Homo sapiens: one gene and its partners. The protein of the gene in region 2 interacts with the protein of the main gene of each other region in a pairwise test. Each region holds a gene or a part of one and is shown on either strand. Other genes may lie near its edges.

Region 1 (3,655 bases), on a different chromosome or scaffold from region 2:
CCTTAGTCACTCGACCTATAATTAGCCACCCAATAACCACTGTATCATATCACCTGTAATAATTCTCCATAAAACACCTTCTACTATCTGATTATTTTGTTTGCTGACTTATTGTTTCTCCTGCACTAGAATCTAAACTCCTTGAGAGCAAGCTGTCTAGCTGTCTGCTGCCCTATACACAGCTACATCTCCAGTGTCTAGAACAGTGTCTAGCACATTTTGACATCTATTTAGGATCCATACATATTTCTGACTTTAATTTCTTTTAAGAGACAGGGTCTTGCTCTGTCACCCAGTCTGGAGTGCTACTGCATGATCATGGCTCACTGTAGCCTCGAATTCCTGGGCTTAAGCGATCCTCCCACCTCAGCCTCCCCAGTAGCTGGGACTACAGGAATGCACCACCATGTGCAGTTAATTTTTAAAAATTTTTGTAGAGATGAAGTCTACCTATGTTGCCCAGGCTGGTCTTGAACTCCTGGCCTGAAGTGATCCTCTTACCTTGGCCTCCCAAAGTGCTGGGATTACAGATTAATTAGCCTGGCTAAAAGTTTTAATAGTGCAATTTTAAAGAGAAAATTAGAAGCAATTTATTTATCAGATAATAGAATAAACTTATGTTTTAGTCACTAGAAATTATAAATATGACAGTGGAAATATAAGAAAATACATATAAAATAATGTTAAGTTTAAAAAGGAGAACCTGGTGGGGCACAATGGTCCATGTCTGCAATCCCAATGTTTTGGGAGGCTGAGGCAGGTGGATTGCTTGAGGCTGGGAGTCTGAGGTTTCAGTGAGCTATAATCACACCACTGCACTCAAGCCTGAGAGAGTGAGATGCTGTCTCTAAAAAAATAAAATTTAATTAAAAAAAACAAGCTACTACCCCAAAAAAGTAGAGCCCAAACATTTACTTTATATGTCACATAAATATATGAATAACATGATTAAAACTCATGTATACCACTTTGGGAGGCCGAGGCAGGCAGATCACGAGGTCAAGAGATCGAGACCATCCTGGCCAACATGGTGAAACCCTGTCTCTATTAAAAATACAAAAATTAGCTGGGCGTGGTGGCACCCACCTGTAGTCCCAGCTACTCAGGAGACTGAGGCAGGAGAATTGCTTGAACTCGGCAGGCAGACGTTGCAGTGAGCCAAGATTGCGCCACTGCACTCCAACCTGGCGACAGAGCGAGACTCTGTCTGAAAAAAACAAACAAAAAAACCCCTCACGTATACACATAATGTATATGTGTGTATACACCATTTATTTAAGAGACAGGGTCTTAGTCTGTAACCCAGGCTAGTGTGCAGTGGTACAATCACAGCTCACTGTAACCTCAAATTCCTGGGTCAAGCAATCCTCCCATTTCAGCTTCCCAAGCAGCTGGGACTACAAGTATGTACCACCATGCTTGACTAATTTTTTAAAATTTTTGTAGAGACAGGGTCTCACTATGTTGCCCAAGCTGGTCCTAAACTGCTGGACTCAAAAGTGATCCACCCACCTTAGCCTCCCACAGGGCTGGGTATTTATTTGAGTAACATCAAAGTTGGTTCTCACTATGTGGTTTCAGGTATATATACCACCCATGACACATGTCAGAAGCTAGAGATTAGAGGGAGATGAGAGTTTACAAAAGGAAGGAAAAAAAGTTTAAAGAAAACAGGGCAGGACATTGTTTGCCTGAGGGAGAAGCACTAGCGTCTAACCACAGGTCTGTAAAAGGAACAATATGACAGGCAGGGTGGAGTAAAGGGTGGTGTATGTAATCAAGGAGAACCATTCCACAAGTGCCATCCCGGCAAGTCAGCAGATAATGAGAACCTCCAAACTAAAGACTGGCAAGAACTAAACATGGATGGCAAATCCAATGTGAAGGAATGAAAAAATCTGCCGATCTTTTAAGACCCAGGAAGAAAGTAATTCATCAGAGACCTGACAGTGGAATTAGGGAAAAAAGCCTCTCCAAACACACTCTAAAAGTGGCAAGCACTTCTACCCTGAGAGAACAGAGCAGAAAAGACATAAGCAGCAAGCTTTCAATAAACGCCTGCGAAAGAACGTTAAAATCCCATCCCACTGAGGTTGCACTTTACTCTTTGATCTTCTTCAGCTTTATCCTGTAATTCTTTTTTTTTTTTTCTTTTTTTGAGATGGAGTCTTGCTCTGTTGCCCAGGCTGGAGTGCACTGGTGCGATCTGGGCTCACTGCAAGCTCCTCTTACCGGTTCACGCCATTCTCCTGCCTCAGCCTCCCGGGTAGCTGGTACTACAGGTGCCTGCCACCACGCCCGGCTATTTTTTTTTTTTGTATTTTTAGTAGAGGCGGGGTTTCACCGTGTTAGCCAGGATGGTCACGATCTCCTGACCTTGTGATCCGCCCGCCTCGGCCTCCCAAAGTGCTGGGACTACAGGCGTGAGCCACCGGCCTATCCTGTAATTCTTATGCTGTCTCAATAAATGTTCATCGTATTTCCTAAACTAGACTACAGATTCTGCTAGGAAAACAATCTTGTCTTTATTTTCTTCCTCATCCTTTTTGTGAACCTTTGAGTGCTAATCTAGAAAGTAATAAATGGTAATTTTCTAAAAATAGAGTGCTTTCTAGGATCAACAGGTAAATATACTACTATGAAAACAAACACACAAAAAAAGAGAAACTCATAAGTATTTACCTGTGTGTTCACTACTTCTTGAGATAACGTTTGATTGAGTGGTGGATACATTTCAAGTTTTATATTTAAAATTCCCACAGAAACTTTTGATTCTGTGCCTATAAACATAAATATTTTGAACTTCAGAGATTTCAATACTATATATATTTAGTCAACCAAAGTCTAACCAAAATAATTTAGGCACTTGGGTGTTTTATCACTTACATGGAATAAAGATAACATTCAACATTACCTTTAATATTCATATTAAAATGAACCAAATCAATTTTTTTAAACAAAGGTGTTTAATTATAAGGAGATTATTTTCTTAGCTTTCTGACACTCTTTTTCTTCTTTAAGTAGAGATGGGGTCTCCCTATGTTATTCAGGTTGGTCTTAAACTCCAGGGCTCAAGTGATATTCCTGCCTCAGCCTTCCAAAGTGCTTGGTGGGATTACAGGCATGAGCCACTACACCTGGCTTTTCTAACAGGTTTTAAGAAACTTTTCTGACTTAAAGGATTTGAGACTCTTAATTTTTGTCTTAATTAAATGTATAATATCAACCAGACTTACATTAAATTCAAAGTCAAAGCAACTGTTAACACCTCATTCCTTCTCCACACACACACACACACACACACACACACACACTAAAAATTAGAAAGCATTTATATTGTCACTTATAGTAACTCCCATTTGTCACTCCCCATTATCCAATTACAGGCTGAGTAGAAATTTTCAATCCATGCCTGGATTTAAAGAACTAGAAAACAAATATACTTCACATCAAAACGATTTAATGTTTCTTCAGTGAATCAGAATCTGCTTGTTTCCAGGTCACTGCTACGATTATCATGTTAGGCCTATTTTTGAAGACAAATTGGGTATTGTTTTTGAAAATAAATTTCTTACATAAAGGACACTTTTTCTATAATTTTTATTTAAAGAAAAATACATTCTTGGTATGACTTATTAAAATCTAAATTACTGGC
Region 2 (3,332 bases):
GAAGGTCCCTGGCATCTGCTGTGCTCCGCAACTGGGGCTTCCAGCAGGAATGAGCACGTGAAAATGAAAATGATAGGATATCAGGAAGATTATTTATAGAGCTTCTCTGAGAGAGTAAGAACAGCATGGTGGAGACTGGGTTTTCATTTCTATGGGGATAACTTACTACAAGGGCTCCCTATCCCTGCAGAAAACTTGGGTTGATTCTGTAAAGGGAATTCTCCTTCCCTCCAATTCTCATAATGTTCATTAAATGAAAATTCCTAGAAGTAAGGATCTGAGTCCTTCTGGGCCAGGGATCCAGAGTACAGACGATGTGCACATCTGCCCAGGCCCAGCCACTCCACGTCATGACTCTGGGAACTCCAACCACTGCTCCTCAACAGGCAGCACCGAAGACACAGCTCCAACCAACACAAACTACTACGGCATGGCATTGTGCCTTTTTGTCGAGGTCACCTTTCAAAGAATTGCTCTTTCTGACCTGGTGCTCCTCTTACCCTCACAGCTCGGCAGGAATCAGGAGGTAGGAATGCTATTACCAACAGGGATTTTCATGGATGGATAAAAAGGTCATGATGCAAATCCTCCAAAAAACTGGGCTCAAAACCCAAGCATCTTGTCCTCTAGGCCAGCATGAGAGGTCTGAAGTGTCACTGCCTCTAGCTAAAAGAGGGAAGGTCAGACAACCCTGTCCTCCTAAGGCCAATAATGGGAACTCTCACCAATGCATAAAGAGACACATTAAAAACGTATCTCAAAAGGCAGCCTGGATTGCAGTCTTTTGCAATCAAGAACCTGGGAGTCTAATGTTCTAGGGATGTCCTTTTAGTGGACCATAGGGGGAATTTAATTCCCCTACTTCTAGAACCCTCCATCTATCCCCAAAATATAAAGCCCTCTGGACACCAAATACTGACATAAACGTAATATTTGTGTAACAGGAAAGAAAGCAAATGCCTCAGCCAGTGAAAGTTAGCCAAAGCTTTAGAATTTCCCAATTATTAAAATACCTGATTTGTAGTACAGGATAGCTCTGATGTCTGGGAGGCAAACTGAGGCAAACTAAGGCCTGGAGCTTACCAGCTGATGAAAGGAAGAGCTCTCCTAGCTACCTAGAGAGGCATCCCTGAGAAAGCAGCCCTGCGGGGCTCAGATTCACACAGTGCTGGTCATAGTGCCATGGCACCTCAGTCCTGCCAGGACGGCACACTTTCCACCAACAGCTGCCCTCAGAGATTCATGCAGAGATAAAGGGAGTTTGAGGCAAGGCCTCTAATCTCCTAATGCTTGGTGCCTGCCTGCTGACAGTGGCCCTCGCTTCTCCTGGAGGCCAGGGTATCAAGAAGGCCTTGGTCCTAGTCTAACCAGAAGCCAAATGGATATGTACCTTGAAGCTATAACCTTGATCTACCAAGAATCTCTGCCGCTTGGTTGAGTAAGCCATTTCCTGTGTGTCCTGGGATACCAGTGAGTAGAAAAAGGCATTGTACTCTTCTGCAACCATCCCTGCAGGAAAAAATGAGAAACGGCAATAAAGAAGACAACATTAGCCATTAGAATGCCAAGAGCTAAGGGTCCCAGGCTCAAAAGCAAGCACTGGAGTGGAAAAGCCCTGCACTCGGGGTTACCACCTGAACTTGGCATGGGATTGCATCAAAATTTGGAAGTCTTTTGTGCTTCCAAGGACACCATCAAGTGAAAAAACAATCCTCAGAATAAAAAAATGTGGAAAGCATATATCTGATAAGGGATTTGTATCTAGGTTATACAAAGAACTGTTGAAACTCAACAACAAGACAAATTAATTATAAATGAGAGAAGAATATGAACAGATTACTTCTCCAAAAACAATATAAAAATAGCCAGTAAGCACATGAAATGATGCTCCACACCATTAATCACCAGGGAAATGCAACTCAAAAGCACAATGAGATTATCACCTCACGCCCCTCTCCGAGGATGGCTACAATCAAAAAAGCAGATAACTGCCACTGTTGTCAAGGATGTGGAAAAACTAGAACCCGCATGCATTGCTGTTGAGAATGTAAATGATGCGGCTGCTTTGGAAAACAGTCTGGCAGTTCATCAAAATGTTAAACACACTGTTATAACCACATGACCTGGCAATTCCACTTCCAGGCATAAATCCAAGAGAAATGAAACTATATCCACACAAAAATTTGTACATGAATTTCATAGCAGAATTCTTCTAAGAGCCAAAAAGTGGAAACAGCCCAAATGTCCATCAACAGATGTGTGGATAAATAAAATGTGGTATGTCCATGGAATCGAATATTATTTAGCAATAAAAAAGAATGAAGTACTGACAGATGCTACAATATAGATAATCTTTTTGAAAACATTATGCTGCCGGGTGTGGTGACCCAGTCCTGTAATCCCAGCCCTTTGGGAGGCTGAGGTGGGCGTGGATCACTCAAGGTCAGGAGTTTGAGACCAGCCTGGCCAACATGGTGAAACTCCATCTCTACTAAAAATAGAAAAATTAGCCAGGCGTGGTGGCTCATGCCTGTAATTCCAGCTACGCGGGAGGCTGAGGCAGGAGAATCCCTTGAACCTGCGAGGCAGTGGTTGCAGTGAGCCAAGATCGCCCCACTGTACTCCAGCCTGGGCGATAGAGCGAGATTCCATCTCCAAAAAACAAACAAACAAAACATTATGCTAAGTGAAAAGAAACCAGTCACAGAAGGCCCCAAGTGGTCTGACTGCATTTACATGAAATGTCCAGAAAAGGCCTACAGACATCAAAGTAGATTAGGGGCTGCCTAGAGCTGGGGGTTGGGAACAAGAGGAAATTAGGAGTGGCTGTGCATGGATGAGGGTTTCTTTTGGGAGCTGATGAGAATATTCTAAACATGAATTGTGTTGATAGTTGCACAACTTTGTGAATATTGTATTTCCTAGGTTTTCTTCGAGGATCCTTATAGTTTGAGGTCTTACATTTACATCTTTAATCCATTATGAGTTGATTTTTGTATGTGGTGATAGGCAGGGGTCTGGTTTCATCCTTCTGCATACAGTTAGCCAGTTTCCCCAGCACCATTTATTGAATAGGGAGTACTTTCCCCACTGCATATTTTTGCCAATTTTGTTGAACATCAGTTGGCTGCAGGTACATGGCATTATTTCTGAGCTCTCTATTCTGCTCCATTGGTCTATGTGCCTGTTCTGTACCAGTACCATGCTGTTTTGGTTACTGTAAGCCCTGTAGCATAGTTTGAAGTTGGATACTGTGAGGCCTTTGGCTTTGTTCCTTTTGCTTAGGATTGCTTTGGCTATTCAGGTGCTTTTGTGGTTCCAGATGAATTTTA
Region 3 (3,655 bases), on a different chromosome or scaffold from region 2:
AAAGAAGAAGTTTCAAACTGAGTACACTTTTGGGTACTTTACCTGTAATAGTTCTCTAAGCTCTTGACCATCCTCCCTCCAAAAAGATGAGAATTCTCCTACTGCTAAAAAAACTTAAACGTTTACTTATTTTTGACGCATTTAAGATCCTTTTGATCTTTAAGATATTTCAAGTGCTTTTGAAACACTATTCAGATAATCGTATAAGTTATGAAACAGTATGAACATTAATGATATTTAAAATTATATTCATTGATGTAAGAATCAATGGAAAGCTTCCAATTTTTTCCTTATAGATGCATTTATTTAAAACTTACACAAGCTCCACTTATCTTGGTGGTGGTAAAATAAACCCTTTAATTGTCATCTTTCTTTCTTTTTTTAATTTTTTATTTGTTTTAAGACGGAGTCTCACTCTGTCGCCCAGGCTGGAGTGCAATGGCACGATCTTGGCTCACTGCAACCTCCGCCTCCCCAGCTCAAGCGATTCTCCTGCCTCACCCTCCCGAGTAGCTGGAATTACAGGCATGTGCCACCACGCCCGGCTAATTTTTTGTATTTTCAGTAGAGACAGGGTTTCGCCAAGTTGGCCGGGCTGGAATTTTTCTACTATAACAGAAACACAAGCAATTGTGTCATTTTTTTCCTGCATCTTAAACACGCGCTTAATTGTTTGGCCATAAATTGTTAGTTTTCAAACCTTAATGTATCTGCAGCAGAAGGGTTTAGCAGGTTGTAATAGGAAGAGATCAAGAGACTGTGCATTAGGGAGAGTGTCTTTTCTCTATCTAACAGGAGTCAATGGGCGCTCATATTATCACTGAGACTACAAACTAGGATGGTGTGGGAAGGAGAGCCTAAGGGTTGGAATTCATTTGAACTCTCCTCAGTCTCACTAAATTGAGAGGCAAGTAATTGATACAGGCTCTCTACTCATGCTGGGACTGCTGCCTATTTGTCTTCCCAAAAGCTGATGAGGAAAGACTGGCACTAAGAATCTTTTAATTTTATATAAAATAAGGATGGGGCTAACTGAAGTGAAGCAGGTGAGGGTTATTAGAGAAAATATAACATTGTCACTTACTGAGAAATCCTAGATTTAGTGCTAAACTTTTTTGCCAATGGCTGTGTAACAGAGAATGCCCTAGTAAAAGGTCTTGTAAAAATAGTACCGAATCAGTATCTTTTTTTCTTTCTTTGAAAAAATTATGTAGTGTAAGATAAAGCCCTTTATTTAGTATATGTACTAAAGTACTTATTTTAATCTTTATGTGTATATATATTACTGTATATAATATAAAAATCAAATAACCCATATTCATTTCTTATCTGTCTTTCCATATGAATCTGCTCTAATAGTAAAATGAATAACATCAGTTTATTCTAGAAGAGGTTTTAAATAATTACAAATATTAGCAAATAACATCAAAAGTTATCTAGCCTTTATTGCTCATGTGCCAGTAACCTTCTGACCTAGAAGAGGGCTTTGTGGGGAGGAGAAGGGGAAAGGCGCTGTAGAGAAGTATGTAGAATCCAGTAGTTACCTTTAAGCCAAGAGGGAAGTAATTGCCAGTGGTAAACTACTGGTCTGAGGGGAAAAGATCTATGCCCAGAATATCACCATCTCAAGTTAGTGGCTTTATACAAGGATGAAATAATATAGAAAAAAATGAGATGATATGGTATCACAAACAATCAGAACCAAAGGAACCTTAAAGATTATTTTATAATTTTTTTTTTTTTTTTTTTTTTTTGGAGACGGAGTTTCACTTTTGTTGCCCAGGCTGGAATGCAATGGTGCAATCTTGGCTCACTGCAACCTCCACCTCCCGGGTTCAAGCAATTCTCCTGCCTCAGCCTCCTGAGTAGCTGGGATTATAGGCATGTGCCACCACACCCTGTTAATTTTGTATTTTTAGTAGAGACGGGGTTTCTCCATGTTGGTCAGGCCGGTCTCCAACTTCCAACCTCAGGTGATCTGCCCGCCTCGGCCTCATAAAGTGCTGGGATTACAGGCATGAACCACTGCACCCAGCCCATTTTATAACTTTTATGACCTTAATTGGGAACCTGAAGTACAGATGGGCTGTTGCCTAGGATCACGCCGATAGTTGGGAATAGAATTCAGATTTCCTGACTTCTGGTCCAGTGTTTTGGGGTTTGTTTCAGTTTTTTTTTTTGTTTTGTTTTTTGTTTTTTTTAGATTTTAAAAAATTGTGATAAAATACACATACAGTTTACCATCTTAACCATTTTTAGTGTATGGTTCCGTAGTGTTAAGTACATTTACATTGTTGCACAGTCAACCTCCAGAACTCTTCATCTTGCAAAACCGAAACTCTACATCCATTAAACAGCCAGGCGTGGTGGCACACGCCTGTAGTTCCAGCTGCTTGGGAGGCTGAGGCAGGAGGATTGCTTGAGACCAGGAGCTCAAGGCTGCAATGAGCTGTGATTGCACCACTGCTCTCCAGCCTGGGATACAGAGCAAGACCCTATCTTTAAAAAATAATAATAATAATAAAAACATGTTCATTAAACAACTCCCCATTCCCTCTCTTCCCAACCCCTGGCAACTACCATTTTACTTTTTGTCTCTATAAATTTGACTACTCTAGGTGTCAGTATTGTTGTTGCTTTGTTTGTTTGTTTGTTTCTTCCTTTTTGTGGAGAACGGGGTCTCACTATATTGCTCAGGCAGGTCTCGAACTCCTGGGCTCAAGCTATCCTCCCGCCTCTGCCTCCCTGAGAGCTGGGATTATAGGCGTGAGCCACCGCGCCCAGCCTGTTTGTTTGTTTTTAACTCGTTGTAGCATTACATCTAAAAGTAATGTGGAAATTACTTGTTCTCCTTTTGATTTTTTTGGCATGAAATACACACTTCATTCTGACTTTTTTTGGTGTTGATGCTTTCTTATAATATAAATCAGCTTATAGTGCCGTTTCTTTACTTGTATTTTTTCCTCTGCCTTGAGTACGTTTTCTCTATCTGTATACCTAGTCCCATTCCCCACTCTACCCCCAACTCCCTGAATCTACTTTGTGAACTCATGTTTCAAGGTTCAGCTCAGAAGTCACTTCTTTCAAGTTTTCTCCCGCACCCACAGCAGAGTTAGGAGCTCCTTCTTATCTACTCCTGGTGCTGGTAGAGTTTTGTTTTGTTTTATTTTGTTTTGTTTTGTTTTTCTTGAGACAGGGTCTCGCTCTGTCGCCCAGGCTGGAGTGCAGTGGCACACAATCTCAGCTCACTGCAACCTCTATCTCTCAGGTTCAAGCGATTCTGCTGCCTCAGCCTCCCGAGTAGCTGGGATTACAGGCATGCGCCACCACACCCAGCTAATTTTTTTTGTGTGTATTTTTAGTAGAGATGGGGTTTCACCATGTTGGCCAGGCTAGTCTTGAACTCCTGACCTCAAATGATCTGCCCGCCTCAGCCTCCCAAAGTGCTGGGATTACAGGCGTGAGCCACCAGGCCTGGCTGAGCATTTTGCTTTTTACACTATTTTGGGACTGGTTTCTGCCCTGCCCATTAGACCAAGCTTCTTAAGGGTAAGTGCTTTATCTTCTTATCTCTGATGCATTCCATGTTTGAGCCTATAGTTTTTATTATGCCCAAGAGGGTACTTTTTAAGAAGAAAGAGATTAAACAATCCTT

Evidence for each region.
Region 1: the proteins of ERCC3 (region 2) and CEP76 interact in binary tests that used the Homo sapiens proteins (3 or more experiments, as listed by UniProt).
Region 3: the proteins of ERCC3 (region 2) and XIAP interact in binary tests that used the Homo sapiens proteins (3 or more experiments, as listed by UniProt).

Annotation. Positions count from the first base shown.
Region 1 is NC_000018.10:12,692,572-12,696,226, forward strand, and holds part of CEP76 (centrosomal protein of 76 kDa), read right to left. Parts: intron 2,781-3,655; coding exon 2,683-2,780; intron 1-2,682. UniProt on the Homo sapiens protein: Centrosomal protein involved in regulation of centriole duplication. Required to limit centriole duplication to once per cell cycle by preventing centriole reduplication.
Region 2 is NC_000002.12:127,259,838-127,263,169, forward strand, and holds part of ERCC3 (general transcription and DNA repair factor IIH helicase/translocase subunit XPB), read right to left. Parts: intron 1,510-3,332; coding exon 1,391-1,509; intron 1-1,390. UniProt on the Homo sapiens protein: ATP-dependent 3'-5' DNA helicase/translocase. Binds dsDNA rather than ssDNA, unzipping it in a translocase rather than classical helicase activity. Component of the general transcription and DNA repair factor IIH (TFIIH) core complex.
Region 3 is NC_000023.11:123,901,451-123,905,105, forward strand, and holds part of XIAP (E3 ubiquitin-protein ligase XIAP), read left to right. Parts: intron 1-3,655.